3 linked regions of the Homo sapiens genome follow. The protein of the gene in region 2 purifies or fractionates together with the protein of the main gene of each other region. This does not show direct contact. Each region holds a gene or a part of one and is shown on either strand. Other genes may lie near its edges.

Region 1 (3,651 bases), on a different chromosome or scaffold from region 2:
GGGCCAAAGTCAACATCAAGAGTATAAAGGAAACATCTCTAATCAAAATTATCTTTGAAAATCCCTTAAGTCAACCACAACATAGGTATATATGAATACTGAATTACAATATGCATGGCCAGGCACTGCGGCTCTCACATGTAATCCCAACACTTTGGGAGGCCAAGGCAGGAGGGTTGCTTGAGGCCAGGAGTTTGAGACCAGCCTGGGCAACATAGCAAGACCCAACCTAAGCCTCCTTGTTTCTACAAAAAAAAAAAAAAAAAAAAAAAAGCAAATTACTTAGAACAGTGCTTAATCAATGCCAGCTCCTATAAGGATTCTTACGAGCCTTATGCAGGCACTTGCCTAAGTACCTGCATAATCCCAGGCTTGCATTCAAAGCAGTCCTTAGATGATCAATCTTGGTGGTGAACCAGGAGGGATGTATAATTCTAATGTTTTCTGCTTACCTGAGGGTTTATTCTTTTAAAATATCAAGCCTCAATGACGTGAACACATTTAAGAGATGTGCCTGTCAACGTAAATCCTAAAAAGACAAAGCAAGTGAAACCCCTAACACATCCCAGCCTAGGCGACAGAGTGAGACTCCTTCTCAAAAACAAAAAACAAAAAACAAAAAAAAACCCTAAAACAGGGCAGCACAGAGAGTAAATGCTCAATCAATGTTTGCTGGATTTGAATCTACAATTTGCTTCATTAGACTCATGTGTACTGAGTTCTTTGGAGAGCTGGAAAGAACTGTTTTTAAGTTGGAAATTCTTATTGTGGGGTTCCACCGAATGGTTGCCCCACTTTTGACCCTGAGTACTGGTCTCATGATCCGTGAGGCGGTTTTAGGTGGGCAGGAAACACGATGTAAATAAAATCCAGGTGTTGCGTGTTTTTACAGTATTCTCACCTGAAGAGTACGAGGATGCACGACTGCTTGGAGAACAAGGTACTTGCAGCCCCGCAAACCCCAGGCATCTCTGTGATCCCCTGTCTGAGTCAAAGCTGGTCTGCGGGCTGTGTCCCTGATCCTTCTGCCCAGAGGCCCGCTGGTACCAGCCACGCAAGTGCTCGGCAACTAAGGCCTTGTGGATGTTTTTGGTGATGTGCTCCGATTTTGCAGCAGCCTTCCTTGGCAGCCGGAGAGTTGCATATGGGTTATGGGGTACCCGGTCGACCTCATCTTCGTGAAAGGATCTGCTGTAGTCCCTCTGGCGCTCATATCCATAGTGGGCTGAGGACCGGTAGGAAGGGTTGACACTATACTGTCCCTCGGTGTCATTCTCATAGACATAACCACCACTGTAATAAAAGTCACACTCTGCATAGGGTGTGTACCCGGCAATGTAGTAACTGGAAGACGGTGGCTCCTGACTCTTTGAGTAAACACCATTCCTCAAACTATCCTTTTGTGCTAGGTTGGGCATGCTTCCTGAATTTGAAGTAGAAACATTCTGTTTCTTTGACCTCCTCCGACCCCTGGTGCGAGTGTCCAGGGTCTGGGTGGTGTAATAGGGGCCGGTAACTGGTGTCACACAGTAATACTCTGTGCTTGATTGGCTTGTATAAGAAGACCCGTCATCGAGGATTTCTGTGCTGCTGCTTCTTTGGGATTTGGAGAGGGAGAAAAATGGCTTATCGCTGTCCATCTCGGAGAGCAGGTGGGACTGGGACTCCAGGCTTCCACTCCGCTGGCGGCAGTGCTGAGATGAAGATTCGGGTCTGAAAGAGGAGAAAGGCAAACTTCTCAACACCAAGAAGAAAAGGAGGACCCAAATAAGAAAAAAGAATAGCATGCTGAATGACTGAATAGCTCGTGAATTACAATAGGACTTTGAGTTGCCAAAGCTGACTGCACAATAGAATCCATTGTTCTCCAAATCTGTTGGCTCACATGTAGGTTCATTTTGACCATGGTCAAAATGAGAAAAGAGCTGGCTTCTGTTAGTTGCGCAAGCCAAATCCTTCCTTGAGGGTAGGGAAAGACACAGACTGAGGATGCACAGTTTGCATCACAGCCTGGAAAAAAAAACAAAAACAAAAACAAAAAACCCAACGTGTCTTTGGAGGGTCCTGTCTTCCTAGAGGATATGAAGATATGGTACATTCGAGTGGAGGTCAGAGGTGGCTGGGCTGAGTCATGGCACTGCTATTTCCCAGCTGTATGAGCTCAGGCCAGATATTTAACCTCTCTGAATCTTGCTTCCTCCTTTGTAAGATGAGGATGAAAACAATATATAATATCTACCTCACAAAAGGCTTGCTGTAGGGACTAAATAATCCAGTGAATATAAAACATTTAGCACAGCACTCACAAACATTTCAAAATGTTGCTATTGTTACTAACTTCATCCTCACCATTGAATAATGAATGGTAATATGTGACTGGGGAAATTAAGGTACTAAAAATCTAATGTATATTTGAACAAATCAAATACATTTTCTTTGCCAACATATTTGAAACCATAAGTTAGCAGAAAATGTAAAACCATAAAACAAGGTCCTGCTACAGAAAGTCACTTGAAATGATTAAAAAACACAATAAAGCAAGACAGAACCTCAAAGCAAAAATCAAGACAGCTAAAGCAATGAGAAAGAAGCTCTCTTACTCCAAGTGGCTGCTGCTGTAGGCGTTTCGGGTAAGAACTGGCGTGGTGGGCATGCTTCGTCCTCCCTGGGGCCGCCTCTCCAGAGTTTTGTAAGGGCTGCTGTGTGTGGACAGCATTTCTCTGTGATGATAAAAAGAAGAATTCAGGAAATGATGAGTCTCTCAACATCTCTGGCAAACTTGTCATAAGCAGATACAAAACTTACTAGAAGCCCAAGGAAAGGGAAAATAGGGAGAAAGATAGGAAGAGTGTCTTTGTGGTTCACTAAACCACAAAGAAAACCCGCTAAAACAGCGGGAGCACATATGGTCTGACTTTCTGAGTCACAAATATGTAGGGAAAAAAAGGACTTTTAATAAAGAGTACACTGAATAAAAAGACTCAAAGCAACTAGAGCTGTTTATGTAGGCACCTGAACATTCAAAACAGTCCTTAGATGATCAAATCTTTGTGGTGAACAGGGATGGATGTATAATTCAGCAAACTCCTTTTTTGTAAACAGTCTAGAATACTAAATAGCTTTTGGCTTTGTGGGCCAGATGGTCTCTAGAGCGACTACTCAGCTCTGCCCTTTCAGTGCAAAAGCAGCCATGGATAATATGTAAGAGAATGGGTGTGGCTGTGTTCCAAGAAAATGACCTATGGATGCTAAATTTCATATCATTTTTACAGGTTGTAAAATATTATTGCTTTTGATCCCCCCACCACCAGCTACCTAAAAATATAAAAACCATTCTTAGCTCACGGTCTGCGCAAAAACAGGCAGCAGGATGGATTTGGCCACTGGACTGTTGTTTGCTGGTCCCTGGACTAAGAACAACAGCTTTAAGTCACTATGTCTACTTCCCAGCATGGTGACAACACAATTAGAAGTTAATTTTTTTTTTTTTTTTTTTTTTTTTTGAGACTGAGTCTTGCTCTGTCGCCCAGGCTGGAGTGCAGTGGTGTGATTTTGGCTCACTGCAAGCCCCGCCTCCTGGGTTCACGCCATTCTCCTGCCTCAGCCTCCGGAGTAGCTGGGACCACAGGCGCCCACCACCACGCCTGGCTA
Region 2 (3,651 bases):
TGTTGACAACTTCCCTAATTGAAGCTAACTTCTTGAAAGGAACAAAAATAAGACATGCATTTGCTATAATGAACATGATAGACTCCAGCAACTTTCATTTTAAATGTTTATATAGAAATTATGCTTAAAGGCCAGGCACGGTGGCTCATACCTGTAATCCCAGCACTTTGGGAGGCTGAAGTGGGCAAATCACCTGAGGTCAGGAGTTTGAGATCAGCCTGGCCAACATGGTGAAACCTCGTCTCTACTAAAAATACAAAAATCAGCCGGGTGTGGTGGCACATGCCTGTAATCCCAGCTACTTGGGAAGCTGAGACAGGAGAATCACTTGAACCCAGGAGGCAGAAGTTGCAGTGAGCTAAGATCACGCCACTGCACTTCAGCCTGGGAAACAGAGTAAAACTCTGTCTCAACAACAAAAAAAAGAAATTATGCTTAAAAAGGAAGTTCATAATTGAATCACGGCAACTGCAGTCATTAGCCCCAAAATGATGACCATTACAGAGCAACAGGATGAACATACTCTCTGGAAAATCCCGCAAATACTCCCTTAAAGTGCATTATATGTGGTTTTCTGTTTACAACCCTGAACATTATTACACAGAAATATATACTGGCAACAGTACACACAAGCCAGGCGCAATGGCTCACACCTGTAATCCCGGCACTTTGGGAGGCTGAGGCGGGCAGATCATTTGAGGTCAGGAGTTCGAGACCAGCCTGGCCAACATGATGAAACCCCATCTCTACTAAAAATACAAAACAATTAGCTGAGCGTGGTAGCACACGCCTGTTGTCCCAGCTACTCAGGAGGCTGAGGCACGAGAATCGCTTGAACCCGGGAGGCAGAGGGTGCAGTAAGCCAAGATCGTGCCACTGGACTCCAGGCTGGACAACAGAGCGAGACTCTGTCTCAAAAAAAAAAAAAAAAAAAAGTACACACAGTATGCATGTTATAAAGAAAATGTATGCAAAATTTAATTTTTACGATTTTTTTCTTTTTCCTGAGCAGAATAGTATTTTCTTAAGTTAATGGTTTGTCTGGTGGGACTCCACAGTGCCATAAACAGTTTTTTTTTTTTTAAAAAAAGAAACCAATAGGCCAGGTGCAGTGGCTCACACCTGTAATCCCAGCACTTTGGGAGGCCTAGGCAGGGGGATCACCTGAGGTCGGGAGTTCGAGACCAGCCTGACCAACATGGAGAAACCCTGTCTCCAGTAAAAATACAAAATTAGCCAGGCGTGGTGACGCATGCCTGTAATCCCAGCTACTTGGGAGGCTGAGGCAGGAGAATTGCTTGAATCTGGGAGGCGGAGGTTGCGGTGAGCCGAGATCGCCCCATTGCACTCTAGCCTGGGCAACAAGAGTGAAACTCTGTCTCACAAAAAAAAAAAAATAAGGCCGGGCGCGGTGGCTCACGCCTGTAATCCCAGCACTTTGGGAGGCGGATGGATCACGAGGTCAGGAGATCGAGACCATCCTGGCTAACATGGTGAAACGCCGTCTCTACTAAAAATACAAAAATTTAGCCGGGTGTGGTGGCGGGTGCCTGTAGTCCCAGCTACTCAGGAGGCTGAGGCAGGAGATGGTGTGAACCCAGGAGGCAGAGCTGGCAGTGAGCCGAGATTGCGCCACTGCACTCTAGCCTGGGCAACAGAGCAAGACTCCGTCTCAAAAATAAATAAATAAAAATAAATAAATTAAATAAATAAACAAACCAGTAAAGATATATCCCACACAGGTGTAGTCTGAACCAAACTGTCCCTATCTAATGAATACAAAAGAGTACTGGAACTGAGAAAGCCTTTTTGTTGGTTTTTGAAATTGTCTTTAATTGGACAGAGAAACTCTAAGACTCTCTTTCTATAGCATATTATCAATGAGCTATGTTCCAAAAGTTTTTTAATACTAAAAGGTAGCCAGGAAATTACAATGCATTTCCCTCCAGAAAGAATTCTAAAGCCGGGCGCGGTGGCTCACACCTGTAATCCCAGCACTTTGGGAGGCTGAGGCGGGCAGATCACGAGGTCAGGAGATCGAGACCATCCTAGCTAACATGGTGAAACCCCATCTCTATTAAAAATACAAAAAAAAAAAAAAAGAAAGAATTCTAAAAACAGTGGTACCTGTCCTAGGCTGATTCACAAAACGTTACCAACTTACGCAGCAGGGACAGGGACAGGGACAGAGGAAGCACTGTTGAAAACAGCGCACACACAAAGTTAACACCACAAGAAATGTTTCTCATTATTCTGAAAATCAAATATTAAGGTTTAGGCTGGGCTTGGTGGCTCAGGCCTGTAATCCTAGCACTTTGAGAGGCTGAAGCAGGCAGATCAATTGAGGTCAGGAGTTCAAGACCAGCCTGGCCAACATGGGGAAACCCCATCTTTACTAAAAATACAAAAATTAGCCAGACATGATAGCATGTGCCTGTAGTAACCCCTACTCAGAAAGCTGAGGGAGAATCGCATGAACCCAGGAGGTGGAAGCTGCAGGGAGCTAAGACTGTGCCACCACACTCCAGCCTGGGTGACAGAACAAGACTGTCTCAAAAAAAAAAAAAAAAAAAAAAAGGGAAAAAAAATTAAGGTTTAAAAAGTTTATTTAGGGCCGGGCGTGGTGGCTCACGCCTGTAATCCCAGCACTTTGGGAGGCCAAGGCAGGTGGATCACTTGAGGTCAGGAGTTTAAGACCAGCCTGGCCAATATGGTGAAACCCCATTTCTACTAAAAACACAAAAATCAGCCGGGTGTGGTGGCAGGTGCCTGTAATCCCAGCTACTTGGGAGGCTGAGGCAGAAGAATCACTTGAACCCAGCAGGCAGAGGTTGCAGTGAACCAAGATTGCGTCACTGCATTCCAGCCTGGGCAACACAGTGAGACTCCATCTCAAAAAAAAAAAAAAAAAAAAAAAAGAAAGAAAAAGTTTAATTAGGCCTGGCACAGTGACTCAACCCAACACTTTCAGAGGCCAAGGCGGGAGGATGGTTTTAGACCAGCCTGCGCAACATAGTGAGACTCTGCAACTATTTAAAAAATAATAATAATAAAAAGTTTGTTTAAAAGAAAACAATGGAAGTTCTGAGGTGACGTCTGAACACGTCATGTTATATGCTTTATGAATCCATCACACACATTTCCTTTTACAATGTGGGATCTGGTCAAGGTAAATTCTCTGTGAAACCTATGAGGGAAATGGACAGTTCTGGAGACTAACACAAACCTTAAAGAACTTGGGAGTCTTATTCTTCATATGATCATCTTACACCATCAGGTACTTTTTGTGTGGTGACCCTCTGGGTGGGGAATCTTCAATCTTTTTAGTTCCTCCAAAATAAAAGGATGATATTTAAAACTGTAGAAAGGGGAACAGGCCAGGCGGGGTGGTTCATGCCTGTAATCCCAGCACTTTGGGAGGCTTAGGCAGGCAGATCACCTGAGGTCAAGAGTTTGAGACCAGCCTGGACAACACAGAGAAACCCTGTCTCTACTAAAAATACAAAATTAGCCAGGCGTGGTGGCGCATGCCTGTAATCCCAGCTACTCAGGAGGCTGAGGCAGGAGAATCGCTTGAAGCTGGGAGGCAGAGGTTGCAGTGAGCCGAGATTGCGCCATTGCACTCCAGCCTGGGCAACAAGAGTGAAACTC
Region 3 (3,651 bases), on a different chromosome or scaffold from region 2:
TCCAGTGCGGGAGGCCGCGGATGGGGCTGTTCTGCAAGGAGTTGCTTCCTCCGCCGGCTTCCGCACAGCTTCCTGTGCTGGGGAAGCGCTTGTGGCTGCTGCAAAGCCAAGGATGCCACGTGGTCACCGCCAGACAGACAGCACCTTTCCTGGGGGGCTGGCTAGTTCAGGACAATGATCCCAGCATGTGGGGAAAGCTCGCCCGTGACTCCCACCTCGCTTGGTCAGACCTCTACTGTGGTTCTCAGCCTTTCCCCAGCAGGGGGTATGCCCTCCCCCCTCCCAACCTAGGCAATATGAGAGGAAAACCCTGGTCAGCCTTCTCTGTGTCAGGCAGTGTGACGGTCCTGCCCTTACAGTTTTTGTTTTCCAAGAAACAAATATTTACCTGTCCTGGCACCCCCCTTGGAGCTTGGTAGGGTGATTAAAGGAAATGGGAAAAACAGAGAAGCAGACCGAAAATGCCTTCCCCCCCAAAAAAAACCTCCCTACAAAGTCAGCCCGGTAATGAGCTGATAATACACAGCTTGGATTACAGCTGCTTGGCTGGAGAATTCTGCTGGATGAGGGGGTAGAGTTCTGAACCACTCTGCATTTGCTCCGAGTGGACTTTCACTTGCTATTTCAGAATAGCGCTGCCTGAGATTTCCTAATTAATTCCTCTGGAATTTAACAGCATTCAAACCATCTGCCATCACGTTGATTGTGGGCCAAAGCCCCAATTTCTCTGAGTCACAAAAATGTACCTCAACAGTGTCGGCAGCAGAGGGCGCTGTGAGCACGGCCCCGTGAAAGGCAAACCCCACGGGGAGGAACTAGGTTGATGTGGATTTTGTCACCGTGGATGCTACTTGGGACGGCCCTTTGATTCTTCCAGAGCATAGAGGGAGGCCTCATTTGGCCTCATTCACGATGCAGCTCACCTGGAATGGCTGTGAGAGGAGCGCTTCTTGACCTTCTCATAGGGTTCATCTAAAGAGGACTCACTCCACATTTTGGGCTTGATGGGTGACTTGTCATAGTCGTTGCGGTGATAGTGCATCTGTCGGAGTCCCTCCAGGGACTGGGGAGGAGGAGGCCTGTTGTGCGACGGTGGCCGAGGAGGGAGTCCCTTGTGAGGAGAATGTAGGGGGGATATTGTGCTGGTAACCTGAGAGTCTTCTGCACAAAGACAGGAAGAGAGGAACTGAGCCCCGGTCATCCTTCCCACAGGCTGAGACAGAACCCCTACACCCCTCCACCCGCACCTTGGAGCCACACAGCCAAACCCACACCTTCACCCCTGTGATGAGAAACCCTGAAACTCTTCCCCAGTTGCCAAGACAAGTCAAGACGAGTCAAACCAAACCAGGGCAAGCCAAACCTCCACTGCAGGCGGGATTGCATGGGAAGAGATGCGTCACTTTTGATTAGACACGAATGGAGTGAAGTCTGAACGTCATTAAATACCACCAACAAATGACTGCTTCACACTAAACAGCAAAATGTAGTTACTGCTGTAGTGCTAAGTTGTCTTTCAACAGATGCTAAGCATCTGATTCACTGTGGGAGGGTCTGAGTTCTGGGAGAGTTTTGTCTGTTTCATCTGCTGCTAGATCCTCAGCCGACACATAGTAGGTGCTTGATAACCATTGGTTGGAGAAGAAAAAATGAATGAGGGTCTATATGTCCATTGTAAATACCTGCTGGGTGGATCGGGTGTCTACTCTGCTTTTTTCCCCCAGAGCTGTGTTTATTCTCTTTTAATCTCTTCCTCTATATTTTAATTTTGAAACTGCCTTAACTTTTTTAAGGAGATGAGCTACAAAGATTATGTATTAATAAATGATTCCCTGCCTCCAGGAAAGAAATGATCTAACACGTCAGTGCGCTAGAGGACTTTCAGAAAAAGCAAATTCAGTGAGTCTAGGAGGTGCTGTGGGAGAGGCTGGTCTTGAAGGGGCTTGAGCAGTGGGCAGGCAAAGAGGAGGAGGAAGGAAGGGCTTGAACCAAAGTGTGGAGGCCCTGAGGGCAGGGTACCAGCTGCAGGCACATCTGGCCAGGCAGGGGCTGGTGAGGAGGGGCAGGGGGAGTAAGGGCAGAGCTCTGGCCAGCACAGCCGCCTTCTGTGTGCACCATGTGAGCCAAGAGCCCGACTGATGGGGGCCTGGAATTCCGAGTTGAGATTTTGAAAAGCCACAGGAAAACTTTGCGATGTCTTAAGCACGGATGCGTCGGAGTGAAAAATCCTGTTTTAGAACTATTCACCTGGCAGTGTTCTAAAACTAGAAAGGAAGGGAGAGAGACTAGAGAGGGGGATGAATGAGGACTTCAGGCTAGGGCAGGTCAGCATTGAGAAGAGAGAGGAGGGAACGATTCAGGCTTCACAGGGAAGGCAGACATGGGAGGTGGAGGGGAAAAAAGCACAGAAGCAAACCTTACAACCAACCAACTACCATTCACTTGCCCCTAAATCCATTTCCAGCGACTTGTTTCACAGCCTAATTCTCAGTCCCCCAGCCGTGGACACCCACTATGCACCCACTCCTCCTTTGCCCTCAAATCAGTAAAGGAAGAGTCCCCAGAAAGAGACCCTGCAGTGGGACTGTGGCAAAAGGATGTGCCGACACCTGTGAGGAAGTCCAGGGGTCTGCATCTGGAACACGGGGAAGAAGCTGGAATCACGGAATGATATCTCAAAATTACCCCGTGACATTACCTATTGCTCCAGGCACCCCTCTACTACCAAGGAATCTCTCAATTTTTCTTCCCTTTCCAGGGGAGACTGGGATACTCAGAGGCCAACCGCAGGGCTGGGATCTCTGATGCTCAAGCCCCCCATTTCCTTGTAGCCCAATGGCGTCCCCGGCTTGTAATGAAGCAGACAAATATATTCCAATCTGATTTCTAATAGCACAGCCAAGGTGACTGGGTAAATAATCCGCCAGACTTTCCTCACATCAAGAGCAATCATTATTATTATTGCAATTATCATTATTACTATGACTAGTGTGGACCTTTCATGCTTTCCATCTGAACAGCCACTTATCACTGCCTGCCTGAGGTTTCCATACAGGGCAAAAAAATTAACTGCCACTTAATATATTTCCATATAATTAATGTACCCGCCTCCCAGTACGATGGTTAAACATCCACAGGAGTATTCTCACATGGTTCTGGGTTTGGAATTCTTTCTTCCCCGACGTATGGTGGTGATGGGGGTTGGGGGAGGGATCAGTTCTGTTTTTTTAAGAATTTCCCAAGAAAATATCCTAACTGCCAGGTTTTAAGAGTTCAGTGGGAAATAATAAGACAGTTTTCCAGCCTGAGTGTGTATCTACTGGGATATCTCCCCTCTTACTTTCACTACTGTCTTGGGAAGCAACAGAGGGTGTGTTCCATTTCTTCTCACGATCCTTACACTCTCCTAGTGGGTTTCAATCTTTGATTTGTGATCTAAATCAATTTCTACCCTTTTCTTTTAGATACCATGAATACTCAAAAGGAAGCTATGCCTAGTGTGTAGATTCTCTGTCTAGCTAAACGTGGTTTTGGGCCAGGTATGGTGGCTCCTGCCTGTAATCCTCCCAGCACTTTGGGAGGCCGAGGTGGGTGGGTCGCTTGAACCCAGGAGCAACATGGCAAACCCAGTCTCTACAAAAAAATACAAAA

Evidence for each region.
Region 1: the proteins of CYTH1 (region 2) and FRMD4B purify together in Homo sapiens (affinity purification with mass spectrometry; one large-scale study listed by BioGRID and IntAct). This does not show direct contact.
Region 3: the proteins of CYTH1 (region 2) and FRMD4A purify together in Homo sapiens (affinity purification with mass spectrometry; one large-scale study listed by BioGRID and IntAct). This does not show direct contact.

The regions. Positions count from the first base shown.
Region 1 is NC_000003.12:69,179,998-69,183,648, forward strand, and holds part of FRMD4B (FERM domain-containing protein 4B), read right to left. Parts: intron 2,721-3,651; coding exon 2,601-2,720; intron 1,714-2,600; coding exon 902-1,713; intron 1-901. UniProt on the Homo sapiens protein: Member of GRP1 signaling complexes that are acutely recruited to plasma membrane ruffles in response to insulin receptor signaling.
Region 2 is NC_000017.11:78,775,744-78,779,394, forward strand, and holds part of CYTH1 (cytohesin-1), read right to left. Parts: intron 1-3,651. UniProt on the Homo sapiens protein: Promotes guanine-nucleotide exchange on ARF1, ARF5 and ARF6. Promotes the activation of ARF factors through replacement of GDP with GTP.
Region 3 is NC_000010.11:13,659,393-13,663,043, forward strand, and holds part of FRMD4A (FERM domain-containing protein 4A), read right to left. Parts: intron 1,162-3,651; coding exon 924-1,161; intron 99-923; coding exon 1-98. UniProt on the Homo sapiens protein: Scaffolding protein that regulates epithelial cell polarity by connecting ARF6 activation with the PAR3 complex. Plays a redundant role with FRMD4B in epithelial polarization. May regulate MAPT secretion by activating ARF6-signaling.